Linked DNA regions of Homo sapiens. The protein of the gene in region 3 interacts with the protein of the main gene of each other region in a pairwise test. Each region holds a gene or a part of one and is shown on either strand. Other genes may lie near its edges.

Evidence for each region.
Region 1: the proteins of TBC1D1 (region 3) and ZFP1 interact in binary tests that used the Homo sapiens proteins (3 or more experiments, as listed by UniProt).
Region 2: the proteins of TBC1D1 (region 3) and CWF19L2 interact in binary tests that used the Homo sapiens proteins (3 or more experiments, as listed by UniProt).
Region 4: the proteins of TBC1D1 (region 3) and CCDC185 interact in binary tests that used the Homo sapiens proteins (3 or more experiments, as listed by UniProt).

Annotation. Positions count from the first base shown.
Region 1 is NC_000016.10:75,144,309-75,151,546, forward strand, and holds the start of ZFP1 (zinc finger protein 1 homolog), read left to right. Parts: upstream 1-4,215; 5' UTR 4,216-4,335; exon of another isoform or gene 4,336-4,354; intron 4,355-4,592; exon of another isoform or gene 4,593-4,731; coding exon of another isoform or gene 4,732-4,959; intron 4,960-7,238. UniProt on the Homo sapiens protein: May be involved in transcriptional regulation.
Region 2 is NC_000011.10:107,325,834-107,328,837, forward strand, and holds the end of CWF19L2 (CWF19-like protein 2), read right to left. Parts: intron 1,221-3,004; coding exon 1,077-1,220; 3' UTR 527-1,076; downstream 1-526.
Region 3 is NC_000004.12:37,886,669-37,894,096, reverse strand, and holds the start of TBC1D1 (TBC1 domain family member 1), read right to left. Parts: upstream 3,014-7,428; 5' UTR 2,749-3,013; intron 1-2,748. UniProt on the Homo sapiens protein: May act as a GTPase-activating protein for Rab family protein(s). May play a role in the cell cycle and differentiation of various tissues.
Region 4 is NC_000001.11:223,389,228-223,395,980, reverse strand, and holds CCDC185 (coiled-coil domain-containing protein 185), read right to left. Parts: upstream 2,567-6,753; 5' UTR 2,506-2,566; coding exon 634-2,505; 3' UTR 516-633; downstream 1-515.

The DNA.
Region 1 (7,238 bases), on a different chromosome or scaffold from region 3:
CACATATTCTTGTGTGATCAGTATTATTTCATTTCTCAATGAAATAACCCCCACGTGGGTAATACACATTATCCTTTTTAGTGTTTCCCCAAATTCTCCTTACATATCACCACAATTTATTTTACGTTTACCTACTAAAAGATTTTTAGATCCTTCCCAAGGTTTTGCAAATATAAATGGCAATGTGAGGAACATTCTTGTATATACATCTTTCCATAAGATTATAGGTTATGGTAATTTATAATTTTTAAATGTTGGTATAATAAGATCTTCAGAAAAATTTGATGTGTACACTCACATCACAATGTTGTATATCCATCACCACTTTCTCCTTCCAGAACTTTCTCATTATCCCAAACAGAAACGCTATACCGTTTAAGCACTAACTCCCCATCCCTTTTTATTCCAGTCCCTGGTAACTCTGTTTTACTTTCTGTCTTTATAAATTTGCCTATCCTAGGTACGTCATATAAATGGAATCATACAGTATTTGTCCTTTTGTGTCTGCCTTCTTTCTTTTTTTCTTTTCTTTTCTTTTAAGAAACAGAGTCTCATTCTACTACCCAGGCTGGAGTGCAGTCGTGCAATCATAGGTCACTGCAGCCTCGAACTCCTGGGTCAAGTGATCTTCCTGCCTCGGCCTCCTGAGTAGCTGGGGCCACAGGCACATGCCACTACCTCCAGCTTGGCTTATTTCACTTAGTGTATTTTCAAGTTTTAATCACGTTGTAGCGTGTACCAGAACGTCATTCTTTGATATGGCTGAATAATATTCCACTGTATCCATTCATCAGCTAATGGACACTTGGATTGTCTCCACCTTTGGATATTGTGAATAATGCTGCTATGAACATTGGTGTAAACACCTTTCTATGAACCTGTTTGAGGATATTGTTTTAATTAAAAGCAAGCTGCTACCACTACATACCTATTAGAATGGCCAAAATTCAAGACACTGACAACAAATGCTGGTGAGAAATTGGAGCAACAGGAATTCTTATTCATTGTTGGTGGGTGCAAAATGATGCAGCCACTTTGGAAGACAGTGTTGGCAGTCTCTTACAAAACTAATGATATGGACAGGAGGCAGGAGGGCGGGATTCCTGGTGAGGGTTCTTACCCTCAAGCTTGGACCCATGGCCCTAAATGAGAACAGGCATTCCTGTTTTCACGCCTGTACGTTGCCTTTTCCAAGACCATTGTGGCCCACCCTGCTCTCTATCCTGTGCCCATAAGAACCCCAAATCCCAGGCTCCACAAACAGAAGAGCAGCAGAGGGGCAGAGGGGCAGAGCTGCAGAGCAAGGTGGTGGAGAAGGAGAAAAGAGAAGAAGCAATTGAGCATTGAAGAGGTAGCTGGATGGTCAGAGAGGAATTTGGCCAGGGACAGCAGAACTCCAGGGGACGATTATCTTCCCACGCCATCCCCTTTCCAGCTCCCCATCCTGCTGAGAGCCACCTCCCTCACTCAATAAAACCTCTGCATTTACCATTCTTCAAGTCCATGTGACCTGATCCTTTCTGGATGCTGGACAAGGACCTGGGTATTAAGAGGGCAGGGTGTAAAAGGCTGTCACCCTCACTCTCCACTGAGCTGGTTAACGCTTAGCTGTCCATGGATGGCAACTGCTAGAAGAGCATTAATTGTAACACACCCCTAGATGCTACCATGGGGCCAGAGCCCAAAGGTGCTCACCCTGGCCCTGGCACCCACTTGCCTCTGTGCTCCCCCTCCCATAAGGGGTTTTAGCACAGTGGCTGAGTAAGCTAGCCACGACAAGTCCCGCGAAGGGGTCCAGGGAACTCTCCTGTCTCATTAACATACTGTTACCACACAATCCAGCAACCATGCTAATTTTTTTTTTTTTTTTTGGAGACGGGGTCTCGCTCTGTCGCCCAGGCTGGAGTTCATTGGTGCAATCTCGGCTCACTGCAAGCTCCGCCTCCCAGGTTCACGCCATTCTCCTGGCTCAGCCTCCCAAGTAGCCGAGGCTACAGGTGCCCGCCACCACGCCCGGCTAATTTTTATTTTTGTATTTTTATTAGAGACAGGGTTTCGCTGTGTTAGCCAGGATGGTCTCGATCTCCTGACCTCGTGATCCGCCCGCCTCGGCCTCCCAAAGTGCTGGGATTACAGGCGTGAGCCACTGCACCCGGCCGCAACCATACGATTTACCCAAATGAACTGGAAACTTATATCCTCACAAAACCTGAACACAGATGTTTAGAGCAGCTTTATTCATAGTTGCCAAAACTTAGAAGCAACCAATGTATCTTCAGTAGGTGAATGGATTTAAAACACTGGTACATGCAGACAGTAGAATATTATGCAGCACTAAAACGAACTGAGGCTGGGCACAGTGGCTCATCCCTATAATCCCCGCACTTTGGGAGGCCAAGGCAGGAGGATTTCTTGATCCCAGGAGTTTGAGACGAGCCTGGGCAACATGGCAAAATGCCATCTCTACAAAAAATACAAAAAATTACCCAGGCATGGCTGTGTATGCCTGTAGTTTTAGCTACTTGGGAGGCTGAACTGGGAGGGTCACTTGAGCCCAGGAAGTGGAGGCTGCAGTGAGCCATGATCGCACCACTGCACTCCAACCTGGGTGACAGAGTGAGACCCTGTGTCAAAAAAAAAAAAAAAAAAAAAAAGCCAGGGTAACTTGAGGGAAACATGAGGGAAACTTAAATGTATATTACTAAATGAAAGAAGCCAATCTGAAAAAGCAACATATGTATGATTCCACCTATATGACAACCTGCAAAAGGCAAAACTATGGAGACAGTAAAAATATCAGAGATTTCCAGGGGTTGTGGGATGGATGAATAAATGGAGCACAGATGATTTTTTGGGGGGCAGTGAAACTATTCTGTACGATACTGTAATGGTTACAGGCATTTGTCAAGACCCATAGAATGTACAACATCAAGTGAACACTAATGTAAGCTATGGACTTTGGGTGCCAATGATTTTGTTTTTTAATTTATACTTTTTGAGACAGGGTCACCCAAGCTGGAGTGCAGTGGCACAATCTTGGCTCACTGAAACCTCAGCCTCCCAGGCTCAAGTGATCCTCCCACCTCAGCCTCCCGAGTAGCTGGGACTACAGGTGCGTGCCACCATGCCCGGCTAATTTTTGTATTTTTTTTTTTTTTTTAAGAGATGAGGTTTCACCATTTTGGCCAGGCTGGTTTCAAATTCCTCGGCTCAAGCAATCTGCTTGCCTCAGGCTCCCAAAGTGCTAGGATTACAGGTGTGAGCCACTGAGCCTGGCCAGGTGCTGATATTTAACTGTAGGTTCACCAATTGTAACAAATACACTGTTCTGGTGTGGGATATCAACTTTGGGGAGGTTGTGTGTGCTGGGGGGACATGGGTTATATGGGAATTCAATGTATTTTCTGCTCAAATTTTGCTGTGAACCTAAAACTGTTCTAAAGGATGAAAGGAACTGAGGGTGAAGGGAAATGGGAAGATGGTGGTCAAGGGGTACAAAGTCTCAGTTATGCAAGATGAGTAGTTCTGGGGAGATGCACAGCTATGTGACGATAGTTGACAATATTGTGTACTTGAAATTTGCTAAGAAGATAGATCTTAAGTGTTCTCATCAGACAAATAACTATGTGAGGTGATGCACATGTTAATTAGCTTGATTATGGTGAATATTTCACAAATGTAGATATCAAGTTGTACATCTTAAATATATAGATCTCAACAAATATATATACCTCAACAAAGTGGCCTGGGAAAAAAGGGAAAAAAGCTAGTTGCAGCACATGATACCTTTATGGCCAGTTTTGTAACAACAACAAAAAAATCAAAGTGCGAACTTAATGTTATACGCAGTTAATCTTTAGAAAGTGAGATTATGGATACTTTATTTTGTACATATATTCTAATTAAATACAGTTATAGATTATTTGTGTAATGTTTAAAAGCCAAGTTGTTGTATTTAAGGGGGAGGTGGTGAATTGTAGTTCACGACCCACTCTGGGAAAAAAGAAAACAGTGCAGGCTAAGGAGATTATTTTGGTCGGCTCATCAGACCGCCTAACAAGGCGAAGACTTTCCTGAGAGTCCCTAAAGCCGCGGCCCCGGAGGCTTGTGGGAAATGTAGTCCCGAACGTGGATGGTCCACCCCTCCGAGGACCCTGGGAACGGCCCGCGCCCCTGTTTCTGCGCATGTGCAGTGCTGCGAGCGCGCCGGTGGCCGCCCTTCCCCCACCACCAGCGGCGAGTGGGTGACAGAGCCCCCGTCTCCGCGCGTCTTCGCCGCCCTGCGCCGTGACCCGCTGTGGCACTGGGCCACGAGTGGAGGCTGCGCCCCTCCAGGTACGAGAGGGGCTTCCAGGTAGCTCCGCGCGGCCTGGGGCCGAGGGGAAGGAGATGAGGGATGGGCTCGTGCCCGCGCAGGGTGGGAGCCCAAACTTCGGCTACTCGTAGGCGGCAGTGACCCTCAGGGCGGCGTCCGGGGTTGCCCGGCGCTCGCCTCTGAACGGGGCCGGCGGGGCACGCCTGGCCGAACGTGCGGGGGCGGGGACGGCGGAGGGAAGGGCGGCTATGAGGCTTCGCCTTCTTCTCTTTGTCAGGAGATGCGCCTCAGACGGGCGGCGAAGGGCTCGGGCCGCGCGGGAGCGAGTTCTGGAGCCCCGGCGGGCGCGCGCGCGCGGGACGAGGCCCCGCCGGGGCGTGGTGGGGGCGTGGCCTGACACACCTGGCCACGCCCCGATGCCCGGTGCCTCGTGGGTGGAGGAAGGACTGGAGCCTGGTCAGTTGCCGGTGGTGAAGGAGAACCGTGATCCCTTTGTCAGAGGGTCTTCAGTGAGGTGTTCCCCTGATCCTCGCATCCACCCCGTGACTTCCAGCGTTATCATCTCCGTCGCTATCCCAGGAACACGGGAGGTTCAGAAGGGGAAAGTGATTTCCCTAAGGTCTCACAACCCGGTGGTACTTTATGTGAGCAGCAGATATTTTTTCATTTATCTTTTGATTTTACTCGCTGGTAGATTTTGCCATGTATACGTTTTGACGTTTTAAATTTCTCTCGGGTGGAATTTACTGTTCTTTCCGTTTGGGGCACCCAAAATTCTTCACTACTTTGAAATACGAAAGTTTTCCCATGATTCTGGTGCAGTCACGCTCTGCGTAACAGTGTTTCTGTCAACGAGGGACCTCATGTAAAATGGTGGTCCTATGTGATTGTAATACTATATTTTTGTATTGTACCGTTTCTTTTCTTTACTTTCTTTTTTTTTTTTTTTTTTTTGAGACGGAGTCTCGCTCTGTCGTCCAGGCTGGAGTGCAGTGGCTTGATCTCGGCTCACTGCAACCTCCGCCTCCTGGGTTAAAGTAGTGCTCTGCCTCAGCCTCCCGAGTAGCTGGGATTACAGGCGTGAGCCACCGCGTCCGGCCAGACACAATTTATTGATGTAACTGTTCCTCTAAATACTACTTTAACTACATCACTCAAATTTTTATATCTTGTATTTTCTTTTCTGTTGTTGTTGTTTTTGAGACTGAGTCTCACTCTGTCACCCAGGCTGGAGTGCAGTGGCACTCAGCTCACTGAAACCTCTGCCTCCCGGGTTCAAGCAGTCCTCCTGGCTGGGATTACAGGCACCCGCCACTACACCTGGCTGATTTTTGTATTTTTAGTAGAGACGGGGTTTCACCATGTTGGCCCGGCTGCTCTAGAACTCTTGACCTCAAGTGATTCTCCCGCCTTGGCTTCCCAAAGTGCTGGGATTACAGGCATGAACCACTGCACCCAGCCTTTTTATTGTGTTTTCATTACCATTCAATTCAAATTTTTTTAACTTCCCTTGTGACTTCATTTTTTACCCTTATTTATTTAGATTGTATTGCATAATTTCCAAGTTTTTGGAGATTTTCCAGATCTTTTTTTTTTTTTTTTTGAGACAGAGTCTCGCTCTGTTGCCCAGTCTGGAGTGCAGTAGCGAGATCTCGGCTCACTGCAAGCTCCGCCTACCAGGTTCACACCATTCTCCTGCCTCAGCCTCCAGAGTAGCTGGGACTACAGGCGCCCGCCACTACACCTGGCTAATTTTTTTATTTTTTTTTGTATTTTTAGTAGAGACGGGGTTTCACCGTGTTAGCCAGGATGGTCTCTATCTCCTGACCTGGTGATCCACCTGCCTCGGCCTTGCAAAGTGCTGGGATCACAGGCGTGAGCCATCGCACCCGGCCCAGATCTTTTTATATTATTGATTTATAGTTTAATTCTGATTTGGTCAGAATACTGTGTTACGAATTTCAATTATTTTAAATTTGTTGTGGTTTGTTTTTGTATTGTATTTTTGTTTCATTTTGTTTTAGTAGACTCCTGGTCTCAAGTGATCCGCTGACCTTGGCCTCCCAAAGTGCTTTACAGGCGTGAGCCACTGCACCAGGCCTGTTGTAGTTTGTTTTAAGGTCGAGGATATGATGATCTCTCTGGGTAACTGTTTCGTGTGTATTTGAATAAATATTGTGCTGTTGATCGTAGAATCTTCCTTGATTGATTGATTGATTGAGACAGGGTCTGTCTCTGTTGCCCAAGCTGGAGTGCAGTGGTTCAGTCACAGCTGTCTGCAACCTCAAACCTTTTGCCTCAGCCTCCCGAGTAGCTAGGACTGCAGGTGTGCGCCCTAATCCTTTTGCCTCAGCCTCCGGAGTAGCTAGGACTCAAGGTGTGAGCCACCACACTCAGCTAATTTTCTGTATTTTTTGTAGAGACGAGGTTTTGCCATGTTGCCCAGGCTGGTCTCAAACCCCTGGGCTCAAGCAGTCCACCCACCTTTGCCTCCCAAAGTGCTGGGTTTACAGGCATGAGCTACTGTGCCTGACCCTCTTTTTCCATTCTTTTATCTTTTTTTTTTTTAATTTCCTGACTCCTACAACTGATCATCCTTTTACTTTGAATGTAGCTATGTTTTTATATTTTAAACAAACTGCTTATAGACAGCACATGGTTTGGTCTTACTTTTTTTATATAATTTGACCTCTGTTATTTAATTGGTGTGTTTATGCCAATTATTGATATAGTTGTGTTAAAGTCTACCATCTTGCTGGTTTTTTTCTGTTTTTCTTATTTGGTCTTTGTTTCTGTTTACCTTTTTTTCTGTCTACTTTTGTCTTAAGTGGGTCTTTTTTATAATTACATTTTATCTCCACTGTTGTCTTATTGTATATTTGTAAAAATTTAACAGAGTTTTTGGTTGTTACCCTAAAGTTTA
Region 2 (3,004 bases), on a different chromosome or scaffold from region 3:
ACAATAATTTCCATTAAGAAAAAGAAAAGTAGGAGCACTCAAAACATAAAAACCCTATACTTACAAAATATGACTATGGTGTGAGTTGAGAACAAATAAAAATTACGTTCCTTGGATCAAGTAAGGGACAACAGAATGTCCCATACTCTCATCCAGGCATGGTGGCTCATACCTGCAATCCCAGCACTTTGGGAAGCTGAAACAGGAGGATAGCTTGAGACTAGGAGTTCAAGGCTACAGTGAACTATGATTGGGCCACTGCACTCCAGCCTGGGTGACAAAGCCAGACTCTGTCTTAATAAATAAAAACAAAACAAAAAGATAAATAAATAAAAACTCTCATTACTTAAGATTTTACGACAATCAGTACAACTCAAAACCAATGATTTGGCTATAAATTTTAACTTTCATGCAAACCCCAAACAACCCTAAAATATGTTATTTGGAAGAATTACTTTTAGAACCACCAAAATTCAAAGATACTATTTAAAAATCCAGAAATAAAAACAAATTTGAATCATACAAATTTTCAGTATCATTTAATTCTTTAATACTTTGGGGACATTTCCTTTTCCTTTAACAAAAAGAATAGAAGTGATACTATATACTGCTAGTAGAAAATTAAGAGCTTTTCTATAAAATCCTATGAAATTAAAATTAAATCGTCTTATTTTTAAAAATGCAAAAGAAGCCAGACAGTAGACTTAACAACCATGAAGCAGACCCACTTCCCTCTGAACCAAGGATTTCCTATGCTTTTTAGATATCCCTTCAGAAAAGGCCTTCTCTAAATTAACTGAACAATTCGGAATACCAAGAAGTAGGTAGAGAGCAGGAATGTGAGCAGATCATCGAATATATGTTTTTACTCCATGGTGACTAAAATGAAGTCCATAGATAGGAGCAGGTGAAGAAGAAAACAACACAATCTCCTGATGTACAGTTGTCACTGACCCAGAGCAGTCTGCTGCTGTGACTCTCTCTGCCTGTGACCTGAGGGTCAGTTGCTTCATTAGATGCAATGGAAATAAAACTGAACGGGATCTGAAGAAAAATTTTAAAATGGAAGGTACACCTCAATAGTTTTTACTTTTGGTGAAGTCATATGGTTTCCACCACTGAGCAAACTGCAGTGCTTTTTTCCTCTGATCCTCAAAGCTTTCTCGGATGCCTTTCCTCCAAAGTCTTGGTTCTATATCCAGCATCCCACCTATGATTTCCTTTTAAAGAAAGAGAAAAGCACAAACACAAGCATGTATAAATAATGAAAACAGAAATGAAACTATTTCTGTTTATTCTGCTATAAAATATAACAAGTTCTTCTCCATGACAATGTTCAAGCATAAATACTAGTTGAAGTTAAAAAAATATGTTTTCAGTTAATTCTAACTAGGCAAACCGTGTGATTCTAAGAGTCCAAGTTAGCTGCATCTCCTATCAAGCAATTTGTCCATTTTGTTGCTTATTAGCACATCTACTAGATGGTAACAAAGGGGAGGGAAAACAAGTGAAATTTAATTAATATGATCTCTATTAGAGGCTCCCGTAAACAATTTTGCAAAAATGTTAATCAACTTCTAGCAATTATTAACTTTACTGCTCAACTGCAGTTGAATCCCAAGCTAATGTTCTCTCTCTGCTACCAAGTATATTTATAAATTAGTTTCTTCCACTATTAGCAGAAATCTTTTTTCATGAAACAAAATCCTATTGTAATACTAGTTTAAGTAAACCTATTGATAGAATTAAAAATTATATATCACTTTCATTTAAAAAATCACATTCTCAAGTCCCATAATAAATGGCTTTTTGGTTATCTGATTATTATTCTTGATTTCCTTCATGATCCTCTTCCTGTGCTGTTAGCTATAGAAATAAATCAAATTTAGGCATGTGAGTATCCATGAACAGAAAGACATGGGGGAGCCTCCTAATGCTTAAATGCTTAGAGGGAGGGCAGTATGGTAACAAAGCAAAAAACAAAAAACAAAACAACAACAACAAAAAACAGACTAAGGATCAAATTCTGCATAGTCGGTCTAGCTCCACCAGACTGTGTGGTGAGATCCTGCACAAACCACATAATCTTTCAGATGCAGGTTCTTCATCTTACTTAGGGACCTACTATGCAGAAGCAAATGCCGTATGTTGTAGGGGATACAGAGATTGTGGGGTGAAGACACACAGTTGTCTTCAGACAGAATAGAATCTGGAGCTGTGGTGGGAGGAATAATAATCCAGCTATGCAGCAGACTGTCTCATAAAGTAGAAGGTAAGTGTCAAAGCAGACCATTTGTGGAGACTCAAAAAAAAAAAAAAAAAAACAATCTATTTGTTGGCCAGACCAGGAGATGCTTCATGGAAAAGGGAATCTCCTGTCATCAGGGAAGGGAAATAAAGGGGTCAACAGAGATAGTAGAAAAGAGAAATAGGGCAAATTGAGATTTAGTTCAAGAGTTTCTCAGCATCGGTCCAAATAAGCAATGTAGTTTAAGAAAGCCTAGCTTATAAAAGTTTACCTAAAATTGTCTATAAAATACCAAGTTTTGTCTTACATCTACCATATAAGCTTGACTCTTGTTCTGTTATCAAAGCAGCTGTTAATGGAAAGACTATCCCCATAATCTCTTCTTGCTCTCTGAACAACTGCTTCAGCAGCAGACTGCAGGGAGGTCTTGAGCCCACAGGCTATTTCTTAAAAAGCAAATTTTGAGGAAAATGGCTCAGTGACGCAATGCTGACAGAGAAAATTTACTTTTAACTCCAAAACTGAATCATATAAACCAGAATGCATGAATAATATGTGAAGAAAGGGCAATCTCCCAGTTTAATATATACAACTTTTTAAAAATGGATATTTTACTTCCTTTTTTCTAGGACCAAATTTTTGTTTTGTTTTGTTTTTCTGTTTTTGTTTTTAATAAATCCAGCCATAGAGCTTTTGGTTATAAAGCTCTACTGTATAACAACAGGATTTTTCAGAACAGTGAAAACACATTTCTTT
Region 3 (7,428 bases):
GAATCACTTGAACCCAGGAGGCGGAGGTTGCAGTGAGCTGAGATCACGCCACTGCACTCCAGCCTGGGTGACACAGCAAGACTCCTTTCAAAAAAAAAAAAAAAAGTCAAAAACCTTGAAGCATGAAAACCTTCATGTCTTTCGTGAAGAATCTGGTCTAAAGATATTTTTTATTGGAATGTGGTGTTGGAAAGGAAGAAAAGTCAGTGAAGGAAATTGTAAGGTAACAGTTCTGACTGAAAACCTAAATCCTTCGTCATCACTACAGGGATACAAACCCCAACACTACTCTGCTGCTGAATGGACTCAGTGGCACGATCATGTTTCACTGCAACCTCCGCCTCCTGGCTTCAAGCGATTCTCCTGTCTCAGCCTCCCAAATAGCTGGGACTACAGGCACATGCCACCATGCCTGGCTAGTTTTTGTAGATCTATATTTTTGTAGAGACAGGGTTTTGCCATGCTGGCCAGGCTGGTCTCGAACTCCTGACCTCAAGTGATCCACCCGCCTTGGACTCCCAAAGTGCTGGGATTACAGGCATGAGCCACCATGCCTGGCCATGGACTCAGTCATTTTAATGAGCAGATTTTACTTCTCAAGTTTAATGACCAAGAGATGAAAACTGCTGAGAAATATATAAAATATTGAAACTAACGTGGTCATTAAACTTGAGAAGGGCAGCACGGTAGACTGGAAAAGGGCAAAACAAATGATCCTGAGGCACCCACACATATACAGGAAGTCCCCAAATGGGCCGTGATACATTTTCAGTCCTCTGGGAATCTGAAAAGAGCAAAAACTGGGGACCTACAGAGAAATGCTGTGGAGAGAGTAGGAAGGACTTCAGGGAGCTGCCATTCTGTCAGATCAAATTAAAAGCATGTTCAAAGACAGAATCCTCTTGAGCCCCTTGCTCTCCTCCCTACCATCTACTCTAGAAAGCTGGTGGCCAACAGAGCAGGCAGCTGTGGTGCCTGCTCCAGGCACCAAGACAACTGAAGATGCTGCTGTGAACACAGAAGAGGTAACAGCCATGCTGCTTGATTCAGGCTCCCCACTGCTTGCCAGGGTTACATCCTAGAAGATCCTAGAAGATCTGGACCACAAAAAAGCCACCCGCCCACATCTGGCTCTGCATAGGGGTACATCTCATTGTCATTGCAGCCTTCCTGGTCAAAGCTGTCTTCTAGGGAAGTGGGGGACAGGGATTATCACCAGCTGGATAATGAGGAAGAAGGGGCAAGCTCTGTTGCTTCAGAGTTGCACGTTTCCTCCTAATACCCACTAGTGTTTTGACAAACTGTGCCTTATGGGACACCAGGTCAACACTGCATGACTGCCACCCAACCAGAAATGCTGTCGTGGTGAAAAGGGGAAGCCCCAGCACTCTCAGTGGGGTAGATAACAATAGACTATGACAAGGAGACGCATTTGCAAAATTTTCCTTTGAAAACGTAATGTAATAATTTATAACTACACTAGTGATTTTTTTTCCTATTCTCCTGGTTTGCAAATGGCTGGACAAATCCACAGGAAAGAAATTATTTTAATTATCACCTGATGATTTTATTTCCTGCTTTGAACCACTTAGTCCCTTCCAGGTCTCCTTGCACTCAATAGTGTTAGAATGCTCTACTTGTGTTCACTTCAGAAAATGTCCCCTAAACTCTTTTTTTTTAAGAGATGGGATCTCACTTTGTCACCCAGGCTCCAGTGAGGTGGCACAGTCATAGCTCACTATGGCCTCGAACTCCTGGGCTCAAGTGATCCTCCTGCCTCAGCCTCCCAAGTAGCTGGGACTACAGGTGGGTGCCACCACCCCTAGCTCATTGAAAAAGTTTAGAAGTTTGAACTTGTACAGATAGCTGAGTTTCTTGGGTGTGACCTATTTAAACCAGGTCATTTTTAAATGCTCTTTCAAAGTCTGATTTTATTAATAAATGAAATCATCCCATCATAAGGGAAACAATGAGAAATCTATGAAGGGAAAACATATCCATTAATATGAGGCACCCTGAAAATTAAACTGTTTGGTGGAAGGAACAACCATCACTTTCAATTTCTTTTTAAAGCAACTTCCAGAGAATAAGCTATGTTAAGTAAAATCAAAACAGGAAAAGCCACATCTAGGTGGATTTCAAACGAAATGATACCTCTCTGAAAAAAAAGCAAAAACAAAACCTTAATGCCTGGTGAAGTTTGAGGGGGGTCTCATAATCACAGAGCCATCAGGAAGCGGCTAGAAACAATGAAGCAGGGTTTCAAAATGACTGGTACAGGATGTACCCATAGAAAGAAATGTTGCGCGCACTGGTGGAGCTGCCAAAGTTACTACTGCAAAGTACCCTGAACTTTTAAAGCGTGGCTTGGGGTCACTCTGACCACACTCTTTCCAATCTGGTCGCCTTGCAAACACGCTAGGATAATTGGCGGGAGGGGGGAGGGGAGAGATGCGCGGACCAGTGAGCTGGCGGGGGTTGGGGGAGAAGCCGGCGGAGCTCTCGGGTCGCTAGCAACATTAAGGTTTCGCTTTCGTCCAAGGGCGGCGGGGGTGGGGGGGTAAGGGGGGCAACGAGATGGCAATGAACTTCCTCCCCCGAGAGACCCTGGCCTCGCGTCCGTGGGCGGCCAGATGCCTTCCCCTCCGCGGCCAGGCGGGGCAGGGGCGTGCTGCGGGAGGGGGCGGCCGCGACGCCCCGAGAGGAGCCAGCAGGGTGGCCAGGACGAAGCCCCAGGAAGCGCCTTACCTGTGCCGCGGCGCGCTCAGAGCCCGGGGCCGGGCCGGGACGCGCAGGTGCTTGGGGGCATCCTGGGGACGGCCTGGGCGGGCGGGGAGTCCATCGCACCCGGCTGGCTGCGCTCTTCCCGCCGCGGGGGGACGGGGAGGGGGCTCCCCTCGGCTCGGCGCCCGCCTCTTCTCCACCCAGCTGAGGACACAGCAGGTCCCGCGGCGGCGGCAGCAACAGGCACCGGCGGACGGTGGCGGCACCAGGAGCAGCAGCCGAAGAGGAGGAGGAGGAGGAGGAGGAAGAAGAGGAGGAGAAGGAGGAGGTGTCTGCGCGCGGCTCTGGTTTCCTCCTCCCAGCCTGGGCGAGCGCGCTGGAGGCGAGGGGAAGACAGGAGCCGGGATCTCCCCACTCGGTCCCCGGGGAGCTGGGAGGGGGACTCGGTGTCCTCCTCCTCCCCACTGCGCCGTGTGACTGTGCCTGGGCAGCACGGCCCGGACGGGCGAGTCACACGCGAGCAACAGCTGCTGCACTGCGGGTCCGCCGCGGCCTCCCTCCCCTCCTTGCCACCCCCCGCCCCCAAGCCCGCGGGCCATCCTCAGCCAGTGTCTGTGGGGGGAATAGGGGGGAAGTACTCGGGCCGCCGCCCCATCCAGACCCCTGCGCAGGATCTGGGCACAGCGTTTCCCTGGGGAGCCGGGGGCGCGGGGCCCCGCGCGTGATGCAGGCCCTCGTGGCGGGATGTACAGTCGCACACCCTGTCCTTGGCGGCCTATTTATAGCAGGTGGCACTGCCCGCCGCTTGCTCGGCCTGAGTGGCTCTCAGCAGGTGGCACTGCCTGCCCGCTCTCCGCGCTCCCGAAGGCGCCTCGCCTCATCTGCACCCTCCTCTTCTCCCTCCGAAACAGACGTGGTGGAAACTGCACACAACATGGGGGGCGGGGGCCGGGGGCGACCAAGCCACCTTGCTCTCCCCCGCCTTACCCCTTCTCCCCGTCCTTGGAGGATGGCAAGAGGTGAACTGAGGCACGGATGCCCTATGGGGCGCTGGCATGCGAGGCAGGAAAATCAGGGACTCTGGGAAACAACGAAGGCGAAGTGCCCTCCCGGGATTAAACACCAGGAAACTCCATTTCTAACCAATTGCGGGAGTGACGCAGAGCCTGGATTAGGCGCTTTTTCCTGCCCCGCGAGCCCGGCACACGCGCAGGAACACACACCACACGCACACGCACACCCCAGTGTGCATGCCCCGATCAGGTCTGGGGACATTCCCAGCGGTGATGTAGAGTGCAAGGAAAGACGCGGAGATGTGAAAAGCGGGACAGAGCTCGCTCCCTAAGACTAGGGGATGGCAGTGTGCAAAAAACAGGCGAAGCTCCCAGATCCCTATCCCACCAGGCACAGAGGCGCAACGTCACTCGCAGGGTGGGGAGAGGGATCTGAGAAAAGTAAGAAGCATCACATCCTCTCCAGAGAAGAGTCCGCAGGGAGGGGAGAGCCGGGTGCTCGGAGGAGGCAGTTCCAGACCCCCAGGTGGCATCTTTCTGGATTTTTTTACTTAATGTAGCTGGGGGTGGACTTTAGGGAAGTGGCTGAGCGTTTGAGCTGTACGGTTGGACTTGAATCCAAATCCCAGCAGGTGTGGTTTAGGCAAGGTGCTGGACCTCTGGTCTTCATTGTCTTACCTGCTAAATGGGACCAATACACACCTTACAGGATCTTTGTGAGGACAAAGCAGGAAAGTGTAAGTAAAGTGGCCAGTGCAGTGACACAGACGTACATGGTCCTCAACTAAAAGCAGCAGCTATTATCAATATTACTGTGGCCCAGGAGGCAAATAGAGGGCCAGGTTTCCTCATCGTACCAAGAGCAGTGTCTTCCTTGAAGCCCACTGAGCTTCTTGTAGGCTTTTAGATTAGGGCTGTCTTATGGCATTCCCTGATTTCCCTGGATGCTTACATCCAGGGGAGGTATTTTTAAGTGGACCCAAGAGTTTTATTCACAGCTTGACTTAAAACTCTCACAATAGTGGTAGCTATTCTTTACGGAGGAGTTAGTCGATTTGGGGTATTGTGCTAGATACTGTCCTTATATATTGTTGCTAATTTGCTCAAAAACTCTGCAGGGCAAAGATTGTTAAATCCATTTGACTAAGGAGAAAAGTAAGAGGTTAGTGCCTACAGGGTTAGTGGGTGCTGGAATCTCCAAGATCCAAAGCCCTTTATAATATACTTGCTCTCTGGCCACTGTGTAGCCCTCAGCTCATTCTTTGTCATTGAGTAGTTATTTGTGTGCATAGCCTCAACTCTTTTTTAAGAAATATACAGTCATAAATACTGTAATGAGTAGAATGTTAACTGGGTTATGGAAATTATTCTTTAGGTTACAAGACCAGGTAAACCAGTTAAACCATATTGTTATCACTTGGGTCATATCCCAAATTATTTCATGTTTTTACCTTCAACTCTGTTGTAGAACTCTCTCTCCCTGTCTGCAGTGACCTGCTGCACACATTTACCTCCAGAGTGCTAGGAGGTCGAGAAAGGTACACTAGCATTCATTTCATTGACACTGTAAACTGCTTTTTGTATGTAACCCACCAGAGGATGGTTGAAACTGTTACCTAACAACCCTGCTTGCCAGGCCCTGCTCCTGGGAAAAGGGGTCAGGCCAAGGGGAACAGAGATAATTTGCTGGGCTCTGCTTACAGAACATCCTGGCTAGAGCCCCCTCCCATCCTGCCACTCCACTACCTTTTCTTTCCCTCACTTGCTCACCTCCTCTACCCTCTCTTCACCCTTACCCCTAGTCCCAGAGTACAGGAAGGCTTAAGTACAGGTAGGCAGCCAGGCGGGGTGCCTAACCAGAATACAGATGTAGGAAGTCGATGGGTGGGGCCCAGATGCAGGCCCAGGCCTCATATCTCTCAAAGCATTGACATCCAGCAAGTTCCAGCTCAGAGATTTATAATTTAGTGGCAAATGACCATTTGCCTTGACCCTTACCTAGGTTAGGGAGAGGTCATGGCCTTGTGAGAAGCAGCAATTTCTGCATCACTTTTCCAGCTCCCAGGACAGCTAGCACCCTAAGAATGATGAGGAGGGATTTTACCATACTTTCAACTTCTGGGAAACAGAACTCCCTCTATAGTATGCAATAAGGATTGTTGAAATTCTTTTTAAAATCTATACAGCATTATCTTAGAAATTAGGGGACAGCTTGCTATCAATCTATTTGGCCTTAGGTTTTCTAGCAGTTGTAGAACAAATAGTAAAGGGGACTTTGAAGCAGATGGTGATACCTGGTATGGCAGGATGAAGACTGTCAAATGTGGTTGGGGAGATCCATACTGGCCCAGTGCAGAGTGCAGAAGTAAGAGCTCACCACTCAGCTCTTACCTGCAGGTGCCATTGCTCTAGGAGGGAAGTAGCTCCTTCCCCTTGATATGTGGCCACGTGACTCCCAGGAGAGCTGGTACACACCATGGTAGAAGCGTGGGCCAATGGGGCCTTGGTGATGGCAACAGAGAGCTCCCTCAAGGCCCAGGAAGGTGTTCTGTTGGTCCCTCTTTAAGTCACCGATAACAAAAGCAAGCAGAGAATAGGGCCAAATGCTCCAATGATTCTGCTTCAGCTTCTGATTCTTCTGACGGAGTATGACCCAGGAACACAAGGAGTGTGGAGCTCTTCACCACCATGGGCATTTAGCTGACATCAGCTATGGACCCATTGGCTCAGCGAGTGAAAACCCTGATGCGAAGGCACCGACCATCATGGCTGCTGCACTTTTCCTGTCTGGACAACTTCCGCACCTCCAGCTCTTCCCAAAATCCTGCCATGGATCATTCTTTTAGGGCTTCTCCCATAGACTCTTTCCTAATTTAGCTATTTGCAGCATAATTAGTTATTCATTGCCAAAAGCCAGGAACATTAATATCAGCTTTAAGATGGCTGCAGAGCTCTAGAAAATTGTGAACCATCGATGCTATTAAATCACATGAAAAGCTCAGAGCCTGAAAGAAAACAGAGGCCACTTTACTTTTAAAAAGTTAAGGGAACCATGGGAACCATATATACATCTAGAATTAAAATCTTTCGTTGATGTAGAAAGAAGACCTTTAACAAAATTAATCATCATTAAATCCATCAGTTAGGTATTTAAATGCTCATATTAGTTAGGAATCCAAACTATTGCTATTATATATTTTTACTTAAATTCAAAATGTGCATAATAAGGTAGTGGGTCCATTTCCAAAAAATGGCATCAATAAAGGCAAAAAATAAGACTATACTGGCTAGAACCCTAGGATAGTAAGGTGGTTCACTGGGTATGCTTGTTCCCATTGATTGATAGTGACTTTCTGGAGCCCTGAGTGGACGAGGCTTGTAAGGCAAGTCCATGCTCAGTGGGAAAGGGTGCAAGATTGAGAAGCAGCACCTGCCTCAAGCATGGGAGGAGGCAGCATTGCAACACCAGCGCCAGGTAATTTGCCAACCCTGTCAATCCAAGGCATAACAGTTAGATCTAAAGAGTTTGTGAAGGCTGGGGTGGTGGCTTATCCTATAATCCCAGCACTTTGGGAGGTTGAGGTGGGCTGATCACTTGAGCCCAGGAGTTGGAGATGAGCCTAGGCAACATGACAAAACCTCTATAAAAAAATACAAAAAAAAAAAACTTAGCTGGGCGTGGTGTTGCACA
Region 4 (6,753 bases), on a different chromosome or scaffold from region 3:
ATTCACAATAGCAAAGACTTGGAACCAACCCAAATGTCCAACAATGATAGACTGGATTAAGAAAATGTGGCACATATACACCATGGAATACTATGCAGCCATAAAAAATGATGAGTTCACGTCCTTTGTAGGGACATGGATGAAATTGGAAACCATCATTCTCAGTAAACTATCGCAAGAACAACAAACCAAACACCGCATATTCTCACTCATAGGTGGGAATTGAACAATGAGATCACATGGACACAGGAAGGGGAATATCACACTCTGGGGACTGTGGTGGGGAGGGGGGAGGGGGGAGGGATAGCATTGGGAGATATACCTAATGCTAGATGACGAGTTAGTGGGTGCAGCGCACCAGCATGGCACATGTATACATATGTAACTAACCTGTACAATGTGCACATGTACCCTAAAACTTAAAGTATAATTTAAAAAAACAAAAATTCCCAAAATTTTCTCTCCGACCCTCTAAACTATCCAAGTGAATCAATAAACCAGTTCATGAGAGGAAATTGCAGCTATTTTACATGCTTTTTTAAAATCAATGTTCAATTATAATCAGATTACAAAAGGAATCACATTGCCACATCTCCTTCTGGCTGCGCACTGTAAGCCAGGCGTCCTTGGTTCTCAGTAACCCCTGTTCTGCTGACAGGCACGGAGCTGGGCCTCTAGTACCATCTGATCAAGGGAGCTGTTGGGAGGCGCTCTCTCCTCTCTCCTGGAGGCCTGAGGGAGCTTCTGGAACTCCTGGAAGTTTGGGTCTTTCCCTTGGGAAATGTGCTGCACCCTCTGCTCCTTTTTCTTAATGGCCTCCTTGATGCCCTCAATGTGACACTTTTCCTCCTTCTCGGCTTTCAGTTTCAGGATGTGGTGGTTTTTCTCCCTCAGGTGGTTGAGCTCCCGGAGGTGCTGCACCTTGTCCCTAGTGGTCTTGTGCACGTGACTCCTGGCCTGTCGGATCTTCTCATCCGCCAGCTCCACCAGAATTCTTTTGCGCATCTTCCTCTGTTCCTCTGACTCCCCTGCGCGCCACCTGGCCTGCTGCAACTGCTCTTCCTCCTTCTGGGCCTTCTCCCTCAGCTCGCGTTGCCGCTCCTTCCTCAGGCCCTGGTGTATCTCCTGGGACCGCTGGAAACTTTGTTCCAGGGACAGCTGCCTAAGGAGCTCCTCAGCCTTGGCCTGGCAGTCCATGAGGACCTTCCGGGCCTGGTAATTGATGAGGGAGCTCAGGTTGGTGTCCTGGACCTTCTTCTGGCCCTCCACGGCATGTAGGTGCCTCTTGCGACAGGCTTCCACCAGCCTCCTCTGCAGCTGCAGGCTGTGCTGCTCCCGGAGGTTCCGTAGCATCTTCTCCTGCTCCCGCAGGCGCCGCACCTGGCACTGTTTTCGGTGCTCTGCCTGGGCGCGCGCCTTCTCCAGCTTCTCCTGGCGCGGGCTCTCCTGGTCCTCTGGTTGCTCCTTCCACCGGCTTTCCCCCGGGGGCACGTTCTTCCTCTGGCTGTCCCGCCGCAGGCCGCGCTGCTCAGGGCTCTGGAGGGTCTTGCGCTGCTCCTTCTCCTGCCACTGCTCCTGGCTCTGCCGCAGCAGCAGCCGGCGCTCCCGCTCCAGGGTCATCTGGACCTTCTGATCCGAGCGCTTCAGCTCCTCCCAGGCCTTAGCCGCCTGCTGCTGCAGCTCCCGTATCCTCTGGGCCTTCTTGAGACGGGTCAGCACCAGGGCCACAATCTGCTGGTCCTGGGAGGACACCACCACCTCTTCCAGCTTGCTCTTCAGGACCTGGGTGTGCGGGCTCCGCATCTCTTTGCTGGAGGCCAAGGGCTGGGAGTCCCGGCTGGCTAATGACTCAACCTGGTCGCTGCTGTCTCTCTTCTGGGCGCACACGCAGGCTGAGTGCCTCTTGAACTTTTGCGAGGGCACAGAAGACCGCTCCGAGGGAACTGAGGAAGGGGACCAGCGACCTAGATGTCTGCCGAGTGGCACTGCCCACTGGTCTCCACCCTGTGCCTTTTCTACCCTGAATGTGCCACTCAGGGGAGTGCCAGCTCCTCCGGGGCAAGGCGGGGGCGAGTCTCCCTGGGCCAGAGGGTAATGCGGGCAGGGCTGCGGCCGCTGGGGTGGCAGCTGGGTCTGCGGCTGCCAAGCCGGGCGGGGCTTGGTTCCTGTCTCTCCCCAGGCATCTTCCAGGCGCCTGCTGCGGGGCCGGTGCTTCCTGGAACGTTCCAGGGGCCTGCGGGCCACATCGCTCAGGCTTCGGCTGCCCCGCAGTGAATCTGAGCACCCGCGCCTGCGAGGCCGCGGGGTGAACGAACAGTGCGGGTGCAGCCAGCACGCCCCAGCTTCGCTCTCCGCACCCGGAGTCCCGGCCCGGGAGCACGCGGTGGAGTCGGCTCCGGACCTCTGCCCGCCCAGCCGCTGCGTGGACTCTCGTTCTCCGCCGGGCCGCGGGGGTTCCCAGAGATCCCGGTAGGGCGGCTGGGAGAAGTGGCTGAAGCCTGCCATCCCTCCCTCTGGGCACGCGCAGCGTCTGCCCAAGGGGCCTGAGACCTCCCGAGGACGCTGCAGACACCCGCCCTGCCCCCCGGTCCCGAGGTCCGGGTCGCCTGTGACGCTCGGGCCACTTCACAATGCGCCTGGCAGCTGGGTCCTCGCAGTCTTCAGACCTTGCCCGGCGCCGCCCACCCCAGCTTTGCTAGCACCCGGAGCACCTGGAATGGGAAGGACAGGAGGCTGGGGATGGGGGTGGTGGGGGTCGGGTGGGGGAGAGAGGGGTTGTATGTTGGAGGAGGGAATATGTAGGAAATCAGGGTGACATTTAAAGCTGAGGGTGCATAGTGTCCCCCACCAGTGTTTCAGGGAGAAATTTGAACTCGCATTTGCACACAAACAGCAGGATTTTAAGAGAGCCCAGGTGAAGGCGTCACCCTCAGAATGGAAGGGGTGGGGAGAAGGGCCGGGGTGCAGTCTCAGGGAGGAGGTACCCTTAGCTGCAGAATCACCGTCCTGCACGTGTGTACCTCTGCAATGTGGTCAAATAGAACGGCTGTGGACGCGACACCACCCATTTGCCTTTTAAGTTAGCAAGCCCAAAGTATGCTTTAATGTTTACTTTTTAAGATTTTTAGAAAAGGTAGAAGACGACTCTATTTCCTAATATGGTAATTACTGCTTTTGTCAAAATGTGAATGCTGCGTGCACATTTCTGCAATAGCATTAGTGAACACCATGTTGAAATCACATTTTTTTTTCCCTTTTCCTCCAATTTTGTGGGATTCTCGTTCCTTGTTGAGGCACCCTTGGCTAATGGGAAAAGCACTGGATCTGGTAGAGAAAAAGAATTTGAATCTCCTCTACCACTCTTCACTCATGGGCTCTTGGGCAAATTCCCTAAGTTTCCCTGACCTCCAGTTCCAGCAAGGTGGAATGGGAAGTGGGGCCTCATCATATGGGCATTGCAGGACTGTTGTGAGGGTCAGATGAAATTATGCATCCAGAGGTTGGCACCAGAATACATTCAATAAATATTATTTTGGTGCCATGCTAAGCGTCAGTTAAAAGTTTTAAGGGTTGGGCTGGGTGGTGGCTCATGCCTGTAATCCTAGCATGTTGGGAAGGCAAGGCAGGAGGATTCCTTGAGCCCAGGACTTAGACCAGTCTGGGCAACATAGAGAGATCCTGCTTCTATATAAAAATTTTAAAAATTAGCTGGACATGGTGGGTGCATTTGTAGTGCCAGCTACTCTGGAAGCTGAGGTAGAAGGATTGCTTGAGCCCAGGAATTTGAGGCTGCAGTGAGCCATGATTGTGTCACTGCACCCCAGCCTGGGCAAGAGTGAGACTTTGTCTCAAAAACAAAGTGTTAAGACTTAAAGTAATATATGAATTTACAAATATTTCTGCAGATTCCTAGCTTAAGAAAAGAATGAAATTAATGTAATCCTAAAATAGTTTAAGTAAAGGATAGAGTGCTAGAAAGGGGAGACTCCAAGCTCTGTCGTGTCCACATCATACTGTGGATCTTGGCTAAGTCATTTCTCTTCTCTGGGGTTGCTGTGGTCTGAAGGTTTGTGTTTCCCCCAAATTCATATGTTAAAATTCTAACCCTCAAGGTGATAGTATTAGGAGGTGATTAGGTCATATGGGTGGAGCCCTCATCAATGGGATTAGTGCCCTTATAAAAGGAGCCCCAGAGTAATCCCTCATCCCTTCTGTCACGCGAGGACACAGTGAAAAGATGGCCATCTCTGAACCAGGGAGAGGATCCTCACCAGACACCAAATCTGATGTCTTGATCTTGGACTTCTTAGCCTTCAAAATGGTGAGAAATAAATTTCATTCATTTATATGCCACCCAATCTGTGGTATTTTGTTAATAGCATCTGGAAGAGACTAAGGCAGGGTTGCAATGAGGAAACAGTTCTGGATAGCATTCTCCAAGTATGACCATTCCTTAAAGAAGAAAAATGAGTATTTACCCACACCAGTCCTCTTCATTCACGTCTCCTTGAAGCATCACAGCAACCCCAGCTAGGAAGGACCAATAGCCTTGATAATATTTTCCACTGGACAAATCTGGGACTTGGCCATATTAACTGATTTCCCCAGGGTCACTTGGTCAATGGCAGGAGTTTTGACTTCAGATTTACTTCTCTTTCCATGATAGCGTGCTGCCTGCCTCTCGGGGAATACACTTTAAATTGAGCCATGCTTTTAAGAGAATTATGATCTGATGTACAGCAGAGGGTCATGGACACCATGTCCTTGAAGCCACGTGGTAGCAGCCTTAACTACAGTGGAAGGAGCCACTCTGCCTGGTTAGGATCTCACCAGCATGTCTATAGCTGGGGATAAGAAGTTTTTCTACCCTAGATTTTATTGGCACCATTTGTATCCTTGTTAAATAAATTATTTTATGTGAATATAGTCCTTACTAGATGGTAATTTAAAAAGTAAACCAAATTTGAATGGAATCATTTAACTTTTGAAGTTAGGAAATTTTTTTCATGTATTGAGTTGTGCTGATAGCTGAGTGTCATATCTCTCTGTTGATGCTTTGTAAAACATTTTGCAGGGACAGGTCAATACCCAGGCTACTCCCATAGAGCAGTGTTATGTGGGTGAAAGTATACTCACCTGAAAGCCAGGAGACCTGCCACCAGCCAGTTCTGCTAGCAGCTGAGTCACCTGAGCAGTCATTTCACCTTTCCTCATCCCTGTAAAGTCTCTTTCAGTCCCAAATGCAGCTGGAGAAAGGGTTCAATCTAGTAAATGCTTCAGCCTTTGTTCTGTAAAGCAAAAATGAGTTAATCCATGAAAAATGCTTAGAGCAGTGTCTGTCTGCATGTGGTAGCTGCCTTATAAATATTAGCCATTAGAATCATCATTATCATTATGCCAAGAGCACTAAAACCATGGCAGCGTAGAGCTGAATTTAAAGACTTAGTTTGGGATGGAGTCAGAATGAGAACCCAAGGGCTCAGATTTCCAGTTCGGGGCTCTTTGGCCTCTTGCTTCCTCTGAAGGTTCTCAGGATTCCTCAGGGAATTGTGTATGGCTCACTCACCTCTGCTGACGATGGAATAAAGGACACAGTCTTCACTTCATAATGTCACACACATTTATTGATAATCTGGGCCAGGATTAGAAAGATGATATTGCTATGAGAAACAGGTCTGGGTAGCAGATGTTTTAAGTGGTTAAACAGTTCACCTTAACAGATTTCCCAGGGGAAGGTGGGGGTGTGCTCTGTCTGAATTGTTTATAAGAGAGGGCTCCATACAGGATGACACTGGAGTGAAACCTGGAAGGACAGTTAGGATTGTCCAGACAGGGATGAGCAGGAAGACACCAGGCCGAGGAAGCTGCATGGACTGCAGTGTGGAGCCTCGAATGCCTGGCACATTGGGGTTGTGTGATTTGTGTAGCAGGGGCATGGAGAGTGTGTGCAGTGAAGTGGCAGGTGATGAGGCCAGAAAGGTAGGCTGGGGCAGATTCTGGAGGGCCTGCTATGCCAAGCCAGGAAGCATAGACATCCTCCCGCTGGGCTGCAGCATCCCAGCTGTGTCCGGAAGAGTTCCGGGATTCCTCAGAGCTGTGTTGGGCCCAGAGGGGCAGGGCTGGAGGACTTTAGGGCAGGCTCTGAGGCCTCTGTCCTTGCTTTACCCAGGGCAGCTTAGACTTTATCTGTTTTATATCTTGGAGCTCCTGATAACACTTCACTGAAAAAATTTGGGGTTCTTCTGTTTCAATCCTTTTTTATGAGGGTTGAAATCCACTGTATAGATCACAGGGAGAAGTCAATAAAACTCTTGAAACCAGGAAAGAAACCCAATGGGATCTAGATTTTAGAAAGCTCACCCTGGCAGCAGCGTGGATGATCAATTAGTAGGCTGGTTCAGCAGTCTGGGTGGGCAATAAGGAAACGCAAACCAGGGCAATAGCCAGGGGACAGGAAGGAATGGATTGGAGGAACAGGTCAGAGTTTGAGGGTTCATGTCATGGGGATGCTTTGATATGGAGAAGGAGGGTTTCTAACCCAAGTGGCAGTGATAGCAGATCTCCAGTCTAGGTGATCTTGAAGACAACAATCTTGGAAATTTGGTAAAAGAAGTTATAATAACAAGTGACCCCTACACAGAACAGCAAATAGAATGTCTGGAGTAAACCACCAAAACTTGAAAGAGAAACCTCTTCCTTTGAGGGTCCTGGTGGGGAAGCTCCAAGCCTTAGCACATCGTCACAGAGCCAAGG